Linked DNA regions of Homo sapiens: all the other regions are linked to region 1. The links come from fine-mapping of genetic effects on gene expression. A gene starts in region 1. Each other region holds a variant in brackets. All regions are shown on one strand. Distances are from middle to middle.

Region 1 (4,159 bases):
TCAAAATAAATAAATAAATAAATAAATAAATAAATAAAGTTTTCACTAAAAAGTGATGCTTTCTGTGTGTGTTTTATAATATTGTCCCTACAGTGGCACAGACTTTCAGCATGAAAGTCTCCTGAGAATTAAGGTGGAATTCGACTTTGCAGTAGGATTCTAGGGTGTTCGAAGGCGGTCCTCCATCTAAGATCTTACCTGTGTCATTAGCAATACCAGCAGGTGACTAAGGAAGTGGATATAACTTGTAGAGACGCCAGTCCACTTTCCGCTCCCATCTCCACCTCTCCCAATTGTTTTATATGGTAACATTTCACCAAGCTGGAACCCTGCACCATTCCTTATTCTACCCTAGAAAAACGGAGAACCTTCGATGTGAACACTTACGTTTTGTGCCAAAAGCTTGAAGTTCTATTCTGAGGTTTAAATTAGCTCCCGCAAAGCGTCCTATCATTTGTGTATGTGGAAAGCTGCTGTAAAATAAAAGCATTGTGCCTGGTGTCCCGGCAGTGTCTTTTCACAAATGGAGTTTGGTCGGCCTCATTTTTCACTCTTTCCATTAGGTGGCGATGGATGCACAGGAAATATCCTCCGAAGCGGCGGTGGAAGCTCTGAGAGGGGCGGGTTTTCAGCTTTTATTTTTTTGCTTTCGCTGAGTCGTCAGTAGCTGATCCACACCGGCGGCCTGTTACTGTGGCTGGGCCCGGATCTGCACCTGCTTCGTGCACCAGTGGGTTGGGTTGGGGGGAGGCGCTGCGTGGCCAGAGTACTCGCCACGGACCACCTGTTTTTTTGTTTTTTTTGAGACGGAGTCTTGCTCTGTTGCCCAGGCTGGAGTGCAATGGAGCGATCTCGGCTCACTGCAGCCTCCGTCTCCCGGCTTCACGCCATTCTCCTACCTCAGCCTCCTGAGTTGCTCGGATTACAGGTGCCTGCCACTACACCCCGCTAATTTTTGTATTTTTAGTAGAGGCGGGGGGGGGGTGTCACCATATTGGCCAGGCTGGTCTCGAACTCCTGACCTTGTGATCCACCCACCTCGGCCTCCCAAAGTGCTGGGAATTCAGGCGTGAGCCACCGCGCCCGGCCCAGACCACCTGTTTAATCCAGCTTCTCCCTAAGCATTGGGGAGCATCCTGCCAGCTGGTAGGAAAAAAAAAATCTCTAGAAATGTTCTCAACTATCCATAGACTTGACATGAGGATGGAGCGGATTCAGGAGCGCGGCCAGCATTGGTCTGGAGGCCCCGCGGCGTCCTTTGCATCCATTTGTGGGGCTGGAAGACAGATTCGCTGGGGGGAGAGGCCCCGGCGACCCCTGGACGGAAATCCCACACTGAGACCTGGCACCCTAACCAGACCCCACCAGAAGCTGCGAGGGCGTCCTCGGCCCCCTTAGAACAGCTTGGAACACACAGAGGAGTCAGTGTCCAGCCAGGCCCGGCCTGATGCAGTGAGGACGGCGGGTCCTATAAGCATCTCAGGGTCAGTGGGGCCCGGAGCGGCCTAAGGGTCAGGCTTCGTGCAGGGAGAGGAGGAGGGAAAGGCCGGGGAGGAACAGGAAGAGGGTGAAGAGCTCCGCGGGGAGGGGGCGGGATCCCTGGAGGTCTGGAGGGAATTTAGAACTGGGGAGGAGAGAAAATGCGGGCCGGGCTGCAGCCCGGGAAAGCGCCGGCTCAGCGGGCCCTTCTCCTTTCTTCACTTCGGCCGTGGGCTTTCCAGGGAGAGTGCGGCGTTTCGGGTCCGGCTTCTCGCCCAAGCAGTCACCCCGCGCACCGCGGCCGGCAGCTGCGGACCCCGCCTGGGCGGAGAGCTCTGGCCACCGCCGGCCGCAAACGGGGCGTGGCGAGGGCGGAGGGGGCGTGGCGAGGGCGGGCGGAGGGGCGTGGCGAGGGCAGCCGAAGGGGCGTGGCGCGGGCCGCGGAGGGGGCGTGGCAGGGCGGGGGAAGGGGCGTGGCGCGGGCAGGCGGAGGGGGCGTGGCGTGGGCGGCCCTACTGGGCCGGGCTCTGCTCTCCCCAGCGCCTGCCGCCGACGCCGCCGCCTCCTCCCGCCGCGCGGACCGTGGAGCGGGGTCGCAGCCGCCTGCCCGCCCTGCGGTGGGCCAGGATGTCGGGCTTCCTGGAGGAGCTGCTCGGCGAGAAGCTGGTGACGGGCGGCGGCGAGGAGGTGGACGTGCACTCGCTGGGCGCCCGCGGCATCTCGCTGCTGGGTCTCTACTTCGGCTGCAGCCTCAGCGCCCCCTGCGCGCAGCTCAGCGCCAGCCTGGCCGCCTTCTACGGGCGCCTGCGGGGGGACGCGGCGGCCGGGCCGGGGCCGGGAGCGGGGGCCGGGGCGGCGGCGGAGCCCGAGCCGCGGCGGCGCCTGGAGATCGTCTTCGTGTCCTCGGACCAGGACCAGCGGCAGTGGCAGGACTTCGTGCGGGACATGCCGTGGCTGGCGCTGCCCTACAAGGAGAAGCACAGGAAGGTGAGCGGCGCGGGCCTCGCCGGCCCCTGCCCGCCCCCCACGCCCGTTACCCCTGCCCGCCCCCCACGCCCGTTACCCCTGCCCTCCGCCAACCCCGTTGTCCCCCTGCCCGCCCTCCACCCCCCGACCCCTGCCCCCAGTCCCCCGCCCCCCGACCCACTGTCCTCTCCCCGCCCCCCACCCCGCCGTCCCCGCCTCTGCCCCCCCCCCTTCCGCGCTGTGCCCGCACCCTCATCCCAGGACCCCTCTTTGGTTCGAGTGCTGCGCTGCGCCCGCCCTGGAAAGTTGGACCCCCCTCGGCCCCCGGGATCCCGGCTCGAGCCCCTCCGTCCGCACACGCTGGGAGCCTCGGGTGGGGGCGGCTGCGCTCGGGGATCCCGGTTCCGCGACCCCTTCACCCGCGAGCAGAGGCGCCAGGCCCTTCCTGCCTCCGCCGCCGACCCCCGCGGATTCCCACAGTGGGGAGGGGAGGGGAGGGGAGGGCGCACGCCCCCCGCCCGTGGCGCCCAAACCAGCGCGTTTCCTTTCTTTCCGGGAGAAACCTGCCTTCCCGGAGCCCCTTCCCCGGGGACCGGGGACCTGGGGGCCGAGGCCGAGGTCAGGAGAGGCGGCCGGTGACCGTGGCCGTGGCTGTGGCCGAGAAGGGCGCTCACGGCTCCGTCTCCCGCCCCCGCCTCCCCCGCCCCAGGCTGAGTTCGCGGCCACCGGGGAGCTTTGCATTGTCTGGCCGTCCAGCCTCCTCCCCAGACGCCTCCCGGGCGCGGGAACAGCCCGGGCTGTGCAGAGCTCAGCTGCGTGGTGGCCCCTGTGGTCCCGGGGTCTTCGAGTTAAGGGCTGAGCTGACCCCATCGATGCACATTGACTGGAAGAAGGAGGATTTGGGGAAATGGATACTTTGCTGTCAACTTCTCGTGTCTCCCAGTTTGCTGCCGAGTTGAGTTTGGGTTTCTGAGTGTGTCCCTTGGGTGAGGATGTCTGTCTCTGTGATAATAAAGCACATCCAGGACATTTTGTAATGAATGGAGTCAGAAAAAGTTTTGGAGCGCTGTTGCTTCGTGAGTGTATATGATGCAACGTGTGAATCCAGCCCCTTTCCCTTTTTGAGGAAAGCCTGTTTCTGGAGTGGACAGAAGGGCTATTCTGGGGGCGTTTAGTTTCCTCTGGGGAGCATGGCGAGGCGTGCCACGTGTTCCTTTTATATGTGCAGAATCTTGTTGAGAAGCATGATTTAGATTTACTGGGAGCAAAAGGCTTACACTGTGACCCCAAATGTCTTGAGTAAATCATCCATCCCGAAGCAGTGGGAGGTAGAGATTCGAGATTTAAAGTATGAAATACAGTTGATCCGATGCAGTTTGTAAATTTCATATTGGGAAAACATAGGTTCACTAACCACTCAGAGGCAAGAGTTGGCATTTTTACTGCTTTTTAGGTTATTTTGCCCATTTTGATTGACATGCTTGATATAGTATGAATATGCATGGCCAGTACTTTTTGATTCAAAATACGAGAATCCTTTGTTTTCCTTGGTGGTGGTTTTTGTGATACGTTCGTGGAGAAATAATGTTCAGAAAGGGATTTGCCAAAAAACATTTTCATTGTTACGGCAAGTTTCTGTTGTAGACTAAAGTCTACTTAAAATAATGTCCTTATCCGGCAATACAAATGATTTCTAGCTTTTGAAAACATAGAA
Region 2 (4,159 bases), 110 kb after region 1:
ACTCACATGTTCTGACCCGCAGCCTGAGGCTGGCACCAGCTGAGGGTTTGCAGTATTTGAATGTTGGCCTTGCCCTGACCCATGCTCAAATCATTTGTTTCACTAAGAATATGTATTTTCAGATCACAAACCAGATTAGTCCACATCTAGCAGTTTAATTGCTGATTCAGTTAAAAAGTCCTTGCTTGATAGGGTCTGGGCTGAAATTGAACAACGTTAGAGGCTGCCAGGACTTTTTCTTTCTTTATAAAAGCAGAACTCCATGCACGTACTTAAAACAGGTACATGGTACTGAAGGGTGTTACTGAGGTACAACTCCTCACCTATCCTCTCTCTTAAGGTTCATTTATCTATTTATTGAGATGGGGTCTCTGTCGCCCAGGCTGGAGGGCAATGACGCGATCTCAGCTCACTGCATGCTCCGCCTCCTGGGTACAAGGGTTCTCCTGCCTCAGCCTCCCGAGTACCTGAGACTACAGGCGCCCGCCACCAACTTTTGTATTTTTTGTAGAGACAGCGTTTCACCATGTTGCCCAGGCTGATCTTGAACTCTTCAGTGCAGGTGATCCTCCTGCCTCGGCCTCTCAAAGTGCTGGTATTACAGGTGTGAGCCACTGCGCCCAGCCTTAAGTTTCTTATATACATCCTTCTGAAATATCTTCTGTGCATTTATACATGTATGTGACGGGTATTGTCTGTTCTATTTACAAAAGAAACGTCTGATTTAAAAAAAAAAATCTAATATCTTGCCAGTCTCTTCCTATCGGCATAGCCGACCTGCTTTAATTGTTGCAATAACAGCATTGTATTCTATTGAATATATAGAGCGTAATTTACTTGCCCACTGCCTGATAAATGGATATTTCACTCCTTCCTTCTCCTTTTGCTGTAGCAAATAATACTATGATAAACATTGTCGCACACACTTTTTTTTCTTTTTTTTTGAGATAGAGTCTTGCTCTGTCGCCCAGGCTGGAGTGCAATGCCGCGATCTTAGCTCACTGCAACCTCCACCTCCCGGGTTCAAGCGATTCTCCTGCCTCAGCCTCCTGAGTAGCTGGGATTACAGGCATGTGCTACCACGCTCGGCTAATTTTGTATTTTTAGTAGAGATGGGGTTTCTCCATGTTGGTCAGGCTGGTCTCGAACTCCTGACCTCAAGTGATCTGCCCACCTCGGCCTCCCAAAGTGCTGGGATTACAGGCGTGAGCCACTGCGCCCAGCAACATTGTTGCACATCTATCTCTGCACACTTCACACATGCATATCTGTGAATTGGAATTGCTAAGCCAAAGAATAATGGACATTATTGACTTCTGTAGACATTGCCAAGGTCCTTCTTGGAGGGGAGAGACTGTCATTGCTTTATAGAAAATGTGTAACTCGGCCGGGCGTGGTGGCTCATGCCTGTAATACCAGCACTGTGGGAGGCCGAGGTGGGCGGATCACCTGAGGTCATGAGTTCGAGACCAGCCTGACCAACATGGAGAAACTCCGTCTCTCCTAAAAATACAAAATCAGCCGGGCGTGGTGGTGCATGCCTGTAATCCCAGCTATGCAGGAGGCTGAGGCAGGAGAATCACTTGAATCCAGGAGGCAGAGGTTGCGGTGAGCCAAGATCGTGCCATTGCACTCCAGCCTGGGTGACAGAGGGAGACTCTGTCTCAAAAAAAAAAGTGTAACTCCAGCTTTTGTCAGCCAGCCTGTAATACCAATAGTTTCCCTTGCCCAGAAAACATTGCTACCTAATACAGAGGATATCACCCAATGCGCTTCCACTGAAGGAGCACAGGGAGGGGAGATGGACAATATCGAGCGAGAAAGATGACTTCTGGGAGTTGTGCTTTTCTCCTCTGTTCAATCAGTGTGGACGAGATGATCTGTTTAGTCCCATCTCCTGATTTTACATAAACCAGGCGTGGTTCTAGTTC[C/T]GAGATCCAGGAGCCTGACTGCCAGGACAGCTTAAGCAGGAGGTAAATTCTAGAATCTGCCCTTTAGTTTCTGGATTCTTTATCTTTTCATCCGTGTTGAATGAGAGAGAAGGGTTCAGGGCATCTGGCCCTTCCTTGGGCAGCAGACTGACAGAACACCGCCTGGGTTGCCTCCGTTTTCAGGAGATTTGCAGCAGCTTCCTTAACTTTACCCACCTCTGCCCCTTTAATGCCAAACACATTCCTTAGAGGTCCGTTAATTAGAGGAGCCTCAGAGTGAGCAGTGGGGTCATGATGGTTTCTCTTATAATCAGGTTGGAAAGGATCTCAGGGTGAGTCTGGTAAAAAGCCTTCTGAAATGTTAGACCAGAGAATTATCTGGAGAGGGAGGAAATGCAGGGCAAGTTCCTGCAAAGCCTCACACTCATGTTGGTCTCACCGATGTTTATCAGGGAGAAACAGCCTGTACTCCCAGGGCAGCCGTTTGAACGGGCAGAGCCCACTTTGTTCCTCGATTCTGTTTCTTTCCATGCAATCCGCCCTCCTGACCTAATACCGTTGAGGCTGGTGTCTTGTCCCATGGGACATGGAACTAGGGAACACAGATGGATCTAAGCTAGCACTCCCCTACGTTTTGGCAAATTTAAGAATCAACACTCTGAAGAACCGTGGTTTTGATTCCCTGAGAAGGAAATGGATTAAGACTTACTCTCCCTACTCCGAACTTTTTATCTTGGGAAATTTCAGACCTACAGAAAAGTTGAAGACAAGTACCATGAATGCCCATCCTGTGCCCTTCACCGGAACCGAGCAACGGCAGACGCGTCCCTTCACCGGAACCGAGCAACGGTGAACGTGCCCCTTCACCGGAAGTGAGCAACGGTAAACGTGCCCCTTCACCGGAACCGAGCAACGGTAACTGTGCCCCTTCACCGGAACCGAGCAATGGCAGACGTGTCCCTTCACCGGAACCCAGCAACGGTAACTGTGTCCTTTCACCGAAACTGAGCAATGGTTAACGTGTTTCCTCACTCAGTTCCCAGGCATTGCTGCTGCTGATCTGGGGAACACACTGTATGAGCCTGACATAAACCTCTACAGAGCTCTGTGTAAGCAGTGGGTATGTTTTTTCCCTGAAGGACAGTTGATCCTTGAATGACGTGGATTTGAATTGCAAGGGTCCATTTGTATGTGGACTTTTTTCAACCAGATGTGAATCAAAAATACAGTGTCAGCCAGGTGCAGAGGCTCACACCTGTAATCCCACCACTATGGGAGGTTGAGGCAGGAGGATTGCATCAGCCCAGGAGTTCAAGACCAGCGTGGGCAACATAGAGAGACCCCCATCTCTACAAATAATATTAAAAATTATCTGGGCATGGAGGCATGCTCCTGTGGTCCCAGCTACTCAGGAGGCTGAGTCAGGAGGATCGCTTGAGCCAGGGAGGTTGAGGCGGCAGTGAGATGTGATTGTACCACTGCTCTCCAGCCTGGGGGACAGAGCGAGACCCTGTCTCAAAACAAAACACGGCTGAGCGTGGTGGCTCACACCTGTAATCCCAGCACTTCGGGAGGCTGAGGCGGGCTGATCATGAGGTCAGGAGATCGAGACCATCCTGGCTCACACGGTGAAACCCCGTCTCTACTAAAAATACAAAAAATTAGCTGGGCGTGGTGGCGGGCACCTGTAGTTCCAGCTACTCAGGAGGCTGAGGTAGGAGAATCACTTGAACCCAGGTGGAGGTTGCAGTGAGCTGAGATCGCGCCACTGCACTCCAGCCCAGGTGACAGAGTGAGACTCTGTCTCAAAAAAACAAAGAAGACAGAACAGTATTCGCAGGATGTGAAACCCATGTATGCAGAGGCTGGTTTTTCCTACACTCAGGCTCTGCTGGGCTGATTGTGGGACTTCAGTATATGCGGATTTTGGAATATGTGGGGGTCCCAGAACCAATCCCCTGAGTATACTGTGGGGCATTTGAAAATAGATTATATTTATCATGATATTTCATTCCTAAACCTTCATTATCTCCTAAAAACAAGGGTGTTCTCTTCCTAGCAATAATACCGTTATCATACCCAAGAAATGTAGCATTGATACGTTTAGAGCATAGGTCTGTTGTCTTGCAGAATTTTCCAGAGTCTGAATTTGTCAAATGGTTCCCTCGTGATTACATCCAGGCCAAACATTTCTGGCAGGAATGCCGCAGAGCTCCTGTTGCATCTCA
Region 3 (4,159 bases), 28 kb after region 1:
TCTCGCTCTGTCTCCCAGGCTGGAGTGCAGTGGCGCGATCTCAGCTCACTGCAACCTCCGCCTCCTGGGTTCAAGCGATTCTCCTGCCTCAGCCTCCCAAGTAGCTGGGATTACAGGCGTGAGCCACCATGCCTGGCTAATTTTTCTATTTTTGGTAGAGATGGGGTTTCACCATGTTGGCCAGGCTGGTCTCAAACTCCTGACCTCAGGTGATCCGCCCGCCTCGGCCTCCCAAGGGTCATAGTCTTCCGTTTGGACTTCAGGGAGCTACTCAGACATTCCCTGAGCTGGAGGGTTCCATGATAATGATCATCAGTCATGGCTTCTGTGGACTGAGCCCCTCACTGGATTCCAGGGACCACCTTGAAGTGGTCTTCATGGCTCTCATCTTTAACACGGGGTAGCCTAGGACCCCTCTAGGACCACCTTGTTACTGCTTTTCATGTATTATCTCATTGCGTCTTCCAGGACGGAGAAGTGGGTCCTGGCTCTGCTGGCCGTCATTCCTCCCAGAGGGATGGGCAGCAGGAACCTGTCGTCCGTGGTACCTGCCGGGTTCCAACCTTGGTCTGTCTGACTCCAGCCCCCCCACAGTGTGACCGTCCGTGGTACCTGCCGGGTTCCAACCTTGGTCTGTCTGACTCCAGCCCCCCCCACAGTGTGACCGTCCGTGGTACCTGCCGGGTTCCAACCTTGGTCTGTCTGACTCCAGCCCCCCCACAGTGTGACCGTCCGTGGTACCTGCCGGGTTCCAACCTTGGTCTGTCTGACCCCAGCCCCCCCACAGTGTGACCGTCCGTGGTACCTGCCGGGTTCCAACCTTGGTCTCTCTGACTCCAGCCCCCCCACAGTGTGACCGTCCGTGGTACCTGCCGGGTTCCAACCTTGGTCTGTCTGACCCCAGCCCCCCCACAGTGTGACCGTCCGTGGTACCTGCCGGGTTCCAACCTTGGTCTGTCTGACCCCAGCCCCCCCACAGTGTGACCGTCCGTGGTACCTGCCGGGTTCCAACCTTGGTCTGTCTGACCCCAGCCCCCCCACAGTGTGACCGTCCGTGGTACCTGCCGGGTTCCAACCTTGGTCTGTCTGACCCCAGCCCCCCCACAGTGTGACCGTCCGTGGTACCTGCCGGGTTCCAACCTTGGTCTGTCTGACCCCAGCCCCCCCACAGTGTGACCGTCCGTGGTACCTGCCGGGTTCCAACCTTGGTCTCTCTGACCCCAGCCCCCCCACAGTGTGACCTGAATTTTCTGCAACCTCCTGTGGCCTTGTCCTGGCAGGAGGTGGGTAACTGTCATGAGTTTCTCAGACCACAAAAACCACAACCACCACCGCCCCCCACAAAAACGGAAACGCCCCTTCTTTCAGCGCTGGCCATGAGGGAGCGGTGGTGATGGATGGCTGACCGTGGAGAATTCTGCATTCCAGGGGACTGAGGTCAGGGCAGGCGGGAGCTGCGTGGCCCTGGTTTCCAGGACTCAGGCTCTGGTGCATTCTCGGGGAGGCTGAGCTCCCCTTCCCGGGTGCCCTCCGTCTACTGAGTGTGCCGAGCTCATTGCTTTCCTGCCTCCCGTCCTCTCTGCCCCTGTGGCTCTCCCAGGGAAATACCCACGGGACCCCAGGTGAAGGTTCCTGCTGCCCGCCCCTCTGGGGCTGGCCCTGCTGGGAGGAATGCCGGCCCCCACCCCCAGCCCTGCCCAGACTCATGCCTGAGGTTTTACTGCTTTCATTCACTTCCATACATGGAAGTGGGGCTTGCCCGCCTCTGCCAGAGAGCGCCTGGATCAGGAGGTTTGTCTCCACACAGCTGACAGACCCTCCCGCCCCCAACCCCCGCCCCCGCCCCCAGCTCGCATTTTTAAAATGTATTGATTGAGAAAGACCCTGGCTTTAACCACATCATGTCTGCAAAAAGAGAGCGTGAGCATCTCAACAGAGAGATCAGGCTGCAGAATTACCCTCTGGTCCCTCGTGCGATCGTTGCAACACTGGCCTCCACCTGGGGGTGTGTTAGAAAGTTCTAAAGAGAAGCTGTTCAGTCTTTTTTTTTTTTTTCGAGATGGAGTCTCACTCTGTCACTCAGGTTGGAGTGCAGTGGTGTGATCTCAACTCACTGCAACCTCTGTCTCCCGGGTTCAAGCAATTCTCGTGCCTCAGCCTCCCAAGTAGCTGGGCTTACAGGCGCCCGCTACCACGCCCAGCTTTTTTTTTTTTTTTTTTTTTTTTTTTTAAGTAGAGACAGGGTTTCACCATGTTGGCCAGGCTGGTTTCGAACTTCTAACCTCAAAAGATCTGCCAGCCTCGGCCTCCCAAAGTGCTGGGATTACA[G/C]GCGTGAGCCACCGTGCCCGGCCGGAAGTGCTTTTTATAATGCGGAGTACTAGGGTTCTACCCGGTTTTTTCTGATTTTGTTTCATAAGCGATTGAGGATTGGACCTTGTACTAGTTAGACTTCCAGAAAGTCAAGAGTTGACAGCAGTAGCTCCTAAAGTAGATTTGGGGAGGAATGTGTCTTTCTTACGGAGGTGTCTTTACTGGCTTGGTGTGTCATTTGTTGGTCTTCTTTGTGCCAAACACTTCGCCATTTCGTCCGACTCTTTCCCCTGCTAACATCTTGGGAACAGTGTTGCGTGTCCCACTGGGTTGTCTCTGTGGTCCTGCTCACGTCCGTCCACTCGGTGGCATCCTCTGAGCCTCCTTATAGTGGAATGTGAGTTATTTTGAAGCCGTAATTCAAGATTGTAAAATTCTAGAAGCACATGCCGAGCTCTGGCTTTGCTTTTGGGGAACGGACGGGGGATGAAATGACTGTGCTGGCCTGGCCGTTTGCACCCCACCCACCCCTGAACACCAGATATAGAAAGTTCTAGAAGCACATGCTGAGCTTTGGTTTTGCTTTTGGGGAATCGACAGGGGATGAAATGACTGTGCTGGCCCGGCCGTTTGCACCCCACACACCCCTGAAAACCAGATATAGTTCCCTGCCTTGGATAAGATCTTAAAAATAAAACCAAGCCTTCGGATCCTTTCTCGTTGGGATTTATTTTAAGCTTGAAATAGCAAACCCTAAAGTTCTTCATCTCTGTACCCACTCCCTTCCCCCACCGAATCCCTTTCTTGTATAAAAAGATTCTGAAATTCTTCCTTGATTCTTTCCTGCCTGGAGGGGAAAGGGGCGAACAGGCACCAGCTTTACTGCTGCAGTCCGTGATGTTGATCTGAATTCCTTCTCCTGCTCTTTTTCTAGTTAAAAAGATTCCCTGCTGTGACCCATGGATGTGTATTCACAGGGCACCGAATTTGTAAGGTGGATGGAACTGCCTTCAGAGTTAAGGGGCTTCTTTTAAGCAATCTTTTTTTCCTTTTTAAAAAAGTGATTTCTTAAGCATCAGGCTGTCTTCAGCCTACTAATTGTTTTGGCTCCAAGGAGGACCAGGACCTGGGGCTAATTGCTTCTGGCATTGACCGTTAGCCCCCGAGAAGCTGCTGGCCAAATGACTGTTACCAGAAGGTGCCCAGGCAGATGCTGGGGCTGAACAATGCATGGCGTCTTCCCACCCCAGCCCCCACTGCTCCAGGCTGAGCCCAGTGGCTCTCCAGGGTCTCAGAGGTCCTCACGTGGCTGCCCCTTTCCAGACTGAGGCAGGGAGGTGGGTCCTAACAGAGGAGGCCCGCGGGGAGAGGAGGAGGCAGCAGGGAGAGGAGGAGGCAGGGGGGAGAGGAGGAGGCCACGGGGAGAGGAGGAGGCAACGGGGAGAGGAGGAGGCAGGGGGGAGAGGAGGAGGCCGCGGGGAGAGGAGGAGGCAGGGGGGAGAGGAGGAGGCCGCGGGGAGAGGAGGAGGCAGCGGGGAGAGGAGGAGGCAGGGGGGAGAGGAGGAGGCCGCGGGGAGAGGAGGAGGCAGGGGGGAGAGGAGGAGGCAGCGGGGAGAGGAGGAGGCCGCGGGGAGAGGAGGAGGCAGCGGGGAGAGGAGGAGGCAGGGGGGAGAGGAGGAGGCCACGGGGAGAGGAGGAGGCCGCGGGGAGAGGAGGAGGCAGCGGGGAGAGGAGGAGGCAGGGGGGAGAGGAGGAGGCCGCGGGGAGAGGAGGAGGCCGCGGGGAGAGGAGGAGGCAGCGGGGAGAGGAGGAGGCAGGGGGGAGAGGAGGAGGCCGCGGGGAGAGGAGG
Region 4 (4,159 bases), 63 kb after region 1:
TGCGGTGGCGCGATCTCAGCTCACTGCAGCCTCTGCCTCCCGGGTGCAAGCGATTCTCGTGCCTCAGCCTCCTGAGTAGCTGGGATTACAGCCGCCCACCACCGCGCCTGGATAATTTTTGTATTTTTAGTAGAGACAGGTTTTCATCGTGTTGGCCAGACTGCTCTTGAACTGTTGGCCTCAGGTGATCCGCCCGCCTCGGCCTCACTTTCTGGGATTACAGGCATGAGCCACTGCGCCCGGCCTCAACCAAACCCTTTTTAAGTCAAGAAATTAAGACAAAAAGTAGCTGGAATGAAAGTGAGTGATTGACTCGGGAGCCAAATGGAAATGGGAGTCACGGCCTCCCTGAGCCCAGTTCACGAAGGAGATGAAACGCTGCGATGAAACTCGCTGATGGATCGTGCGCTCCTCCCATTTCCTTCCGACCCTCCCGCCTTTTCCTCCAAACCGAACGTTACAAAGGAAAATAATCTTAATCAAGACCAGACCCCTTTGGGCCCAGGGTTCTGGGGCTGTTTCTGGCACAACGGCCAGGCCCAGCACAGCCTGGTTTGTGATTGTTTGATTACAGGAGGAAAATGCTGTGTTGTTTTGGGGGAGGTGATATTGAGTGTTCTCGTGTTTCTTTTGTCTGTTTTTGGCCCATCTTCTTAGTAGGATCATGTTATGAGTTATTTTCTGGTTTAGACACACAACTTTTAAAACTGAAACTGAGATTTCCTTTATGCTGCAAATACGGAGTGAGTTTTTGTGATGTGCCGGGCCCTGCCGTGAGCCATGTGTCTTCCATAAAGTACGAGCTCAGTAAACATTTTATTATTATCCATTAGGGGTTCTTGTCAACAAAACTGAATACAGACCACATTCTTCTTCACCAGTACGCAGTCCCCTTTGTTTGGAACGGGAGTCCCCCCTCTCCTGTCGCTTATCCCCTTTCCCATCCGCCCTTGTCCCCACCTCTGCGAGGCCTTCCTGGGGAGCGAGAGCCACGCCCGCCTGTTGTGCCAGTACGCGCCCCTTGTAGGGCTGGAACCTGGGGTGTCCGTCTAGGAGGTCGGATTGGGTAGGGAAGCTCGCCTGCAGCGGGTGGCCTACATTGGGTTGAGATGGTGACGTGCGTCTGAGCCACGTCCTTGTGGGAGAGCTGGGAATCGAGCCTGTAGACACCAGTGCTAAGTTCAAAGAGTGGGTGGAGATAAAAAATGGGCGTAGGGTGGGACAGCAGGTCCAGAAGGAAGAGGAGGAGCTGGTGTGGTTTCCACAGACGACAGTGTGGGGCTGCTCTGTGAGTTTAGGTTCATGAGTAAAGATGTGAGCGGCGGCTCCCGCCTGTTCTTTCAGAGGCCCAGCACTTTCAGAGGCCAAGGCAGGCGGATCACGAGGTCAAGAGATTGAGACCAGCCTGGCCAACATGGTGAAACCCCGTCTCTACTAAAAATACAAAAAATTAGCTGGGCATGGTGGCGGGCGCCTGTAGTCCCAGCTGCTCGGGAGGCTGAGGCAGGAGAATCGCTTGAACCCGCGAGGCGGAGGCCACGGCGAGCCGAGGTCGCGCCATTGCACTCCAGCCTGGGCTACAGAAAAAAAAAAAAAAGATGTGAGCTCAGGCGTGGAACACCTCATTCCTTGGTTCACTTAGGAACAGGGAATCTTGTTGGAGGCAAAGCGGATGTTTGATTTGTAGCTTCAGCATGTATAACAGAACAGGACACACAGGGAATGTCTGATAATGTGATTAATGAATGAAGATAAAGACCCACCAAAAATACCCACCTTCAAGGTGGTTTGAAAATTTACAACGAAGAGGTTAGGGTGGTAACTAACCTAGAGGCCTGTTGGTTGCTGTAATTTTTTTTTAGAGATGAAGTTTCTCTCTGTTGCCCAGGCCGGAGTGCAATGGCATAACCTCAGCTCACTGCAACCTCCACCTCCCGGGTTCAAGTGATTCTCCTGCCTCAGCCCCCGAAGTGGCTGGGATTACAGATGTCCGCCACCACACCTGGCTAGTTTTTTGTATTTTTAGTGGAGACCTCAGGTGATCCACCTGCCTCGGCCTCCAAAAGTGCTGGGATTACGGGCGTGAGCCACCGTGCCCGGCCAGCTGCTGTAATTTGTGAGCTTAATGTTAAAATCCTGAGTGCTTTGCAGGGATCCCTGGGATCCCCAAACACTTAAAACTGATTCCTTGGATATTTACAGTAGCTACTGCAGCTGGGGTGCAATTTCACATTTTACCAGGAGGGACTGTCTGAAATCTCCTTCATTTTTAAGTTTTGGAATGTGTTTATATTTATTTTCCTTTTTT[T/G]TAGTTTGGTAACTTTGAAATGTCATACGTTAATTTTACGTAAAACAAGGGATTTGACTTTGACTCATTTCCAAAAGGCCCCTTGCAGGGAAAATTGTCTTTTAAATTGTTTTAAATAATCTCATTTTCAGCAGGAAGAAGTAGAAAGGATAAAATGGATCCTGCACCACGGGAACCTCACAGCACCTCACTCCTTGTGGCTTTTCCTGTTTGATACTCTGCTTTCTGAAAGATGCAATTTTCTGCCTCCATTTCTGTTGCCGACGTGCCAGGATTTCTAGCAAAGTGGGCCTAGAGTTTTGCTGGAGGTTACTTTTCCTTGGAAGCAATTCAAATACAATCATCATTCTGTTTCTCCCTTTTCATTCGACATTTGAGTAGAACAATGGCTTGGCAGCCAGACAGGCGCTCTTAAGAGCTTCAGTGTTTTTATCTTTGCCTTTTGAGAAGTGCCTTTACAAAATGTGGTTTAAAATTGAGCCTACAAACAAAAACACAGAACCGATTGCTTGGAGACCAAAACTCTAGGGACAAGGACAAAAGAACTGGGAGAGGGGGAGCAGCTGGAAGTTCCAGCTCTGACACCATAAGTGGCCGCCCATTTTAGGGGAAGTTTCGGCTCTGACACCATAAGTGGCCGCCCATTTTAGGGGAAGTTTCACCTGGAAGCCCCAGCTCTGGCCCCATAAGTGGTCAGGCATTTTAGTGTTGCACTAACTGGTCTCTGCCTTCTTGGTTTATTGCCAAGTTTCCAGCCCTGGGGTATCCTTGTTATTTACTTTCCTCCTGCACCAAAGCTCGGAAGCGTTACACTATGTACTCATTCATTCTCACTTTTACTCCTTTCTTAGAAATAATTTCCTAGAGTCCAGGTGTGGTGTCTTATATCTGTAATCCCAGCACTTTGGGAGGCTGAGGCAGGTTGATTGCCTGAGCCCAAGAGTTTGAGACCAGTCTGGGCAACATGGCAAAACCCAGTCTTTACAAAAAAATACAAAAATTAGCTGGGTGTGATGGCACACTCCCGTAGTCCCAGCTACTTGGGAGGCGGAGGCAGGAGGATTGTCTGAGCCCAGGAGGTGGAGGTTGCAGTGAGCCGAGATGACTCCAGCCTGGGCGACAGAGTGAGACTCTATCTCAGAAAGAAAGAGAGAAAGAATTCCTAGAGGTCATGCTAATCATAATCCCACTTATTCTCAACTATAAAATCCTCAACTGGCCGGGTGCAGTGGCTCACGCCTGTAATCCCAGCACTTTTGGAGGCTGAGGTGGACCTATCACGAGGTCAGAAGTTCGAGGCCAGCCTGGCCAATATGGTGAAACCCCATTTCTACTAAAAATACAAAAAATGAGCTTGGCGTTGTGGCGGGTGCCTGTATTCCCAGCTATTTGGGAGGCTGAGGCAGGAGAATCTCTTGAACCTGGGAGGCAGAAGTTGGAGTGAGCCGAGATCGCACCACTGCACTCCAGCCTGGCGAGCGAGACTTTGTCTAAAAAAAAAAATCAACTCTGAAATTTTTCCAGTACAAGTGTCTGCGATTTCACCCCCTTTAATATTTTAGGAAAACTCATCTCACTTGCTTGCTTTATTTGCCTGTGCTGTTGGTTCCACGCACTCATCAGCTCCTCCAGGGGAAGCCCTGGTTCCCCACATCCAGCTCCGCCTCCTCTACACCCAACAGTCTTGCTTCCCACATCACGGTACGCTCCCTGTTAACTCGCTTGCTGAGTTAATGACCTCACTCAATGGACTGTGGACTCTTTGAAGGTCAGAAGCGAGTCTCTGCTCCTCATCTTTGTCTCCGCCTGGTTCGATGCTCAGCACAAGGTAGCATTTCATACATGTTTGTT

Which allele goes with the higher level. Positions count from the first base shown, and alleles are read on the strand shown. Sizes are in standard deviations (SD) of each study's normalised expression. Not every link is listed here.
As copies of T replace G in region 4, the expression in monocytes after R848 of the gene that starts at base 2,009 in region 1 goes down (large effect, 1.3 SD a copy in Quach 2016).

Evidence for each region. PIP is the estimated chance that this variant, and not a neighbour inherited with it, causes the effect. A credible set is the group of variants that fine-mapping cannot tell apart.
Region 2: its variant is the best candidate, but not a certain one, in a credible set for the expression of NXN in aorta (GTEx, PIP 0.65).
Region 3: its variant is the best candidate, but not a certain one, in a credible set for the expression of NXN in tibial artery (GTEx, PIP 0.70).
Region 4: its variant is the best candidate, but not a certain one, in a credible set for the expression of NXN in monocytes after R848 (Quach 2016, PIP 0.56).

The regions. Positions count from the first base shown.
Region 1 is chr17:977,626-981,784 of GRCh38, reverse strand. NXN (nucleoredoxin) reads left to right here and starts at 2,009. Exons shown (of 8, transcript NM_022463.5): 1 at 2,009-2,466. The coding sequence starts at 2,107. RefSeq lists enhancers at 442-736, 2,161-3,096.
Region 2 is chr17:862,768-866,926 of GRCh38, reverse strand. The region is part of intron 1 of NXN (nucleoredoxin); the gene reads left to right. Among named protein-coding and RNA genes, the nearest start is that of MRM3, 82 kb to the right of the region's middle. The variant C/T (reference allele first, on the strand shown) is at 1,932.
Region 3 is chr17:949,247-953,405 of GRCh38, reverse strand. The region is part of intron 1 of NXN (nucleoredoxin); the gene reads left to right. Among named protein-coding and RNA genes, the nearest start is that of NXN, 28 kb to the left of the region's middle. RefSeq lists an enhancer at 2,746-3,638. The variant G/C (reference allele first, on the strand shown) is at 2,329.
Region 4 is chr17:914,600-918,758 of GRCh38, reverse strand. All of the region lies in intron 1 of NXN (nucleoredoxin), which reads left to right. Among named protein-coding and RNA genes, the nearest start is that of NXN, 63 kb to the left of the region's middle. RefSeq lists an enhancer at 1-230. The variant T/G (reference allele first, on the strand shown) is at 2,309.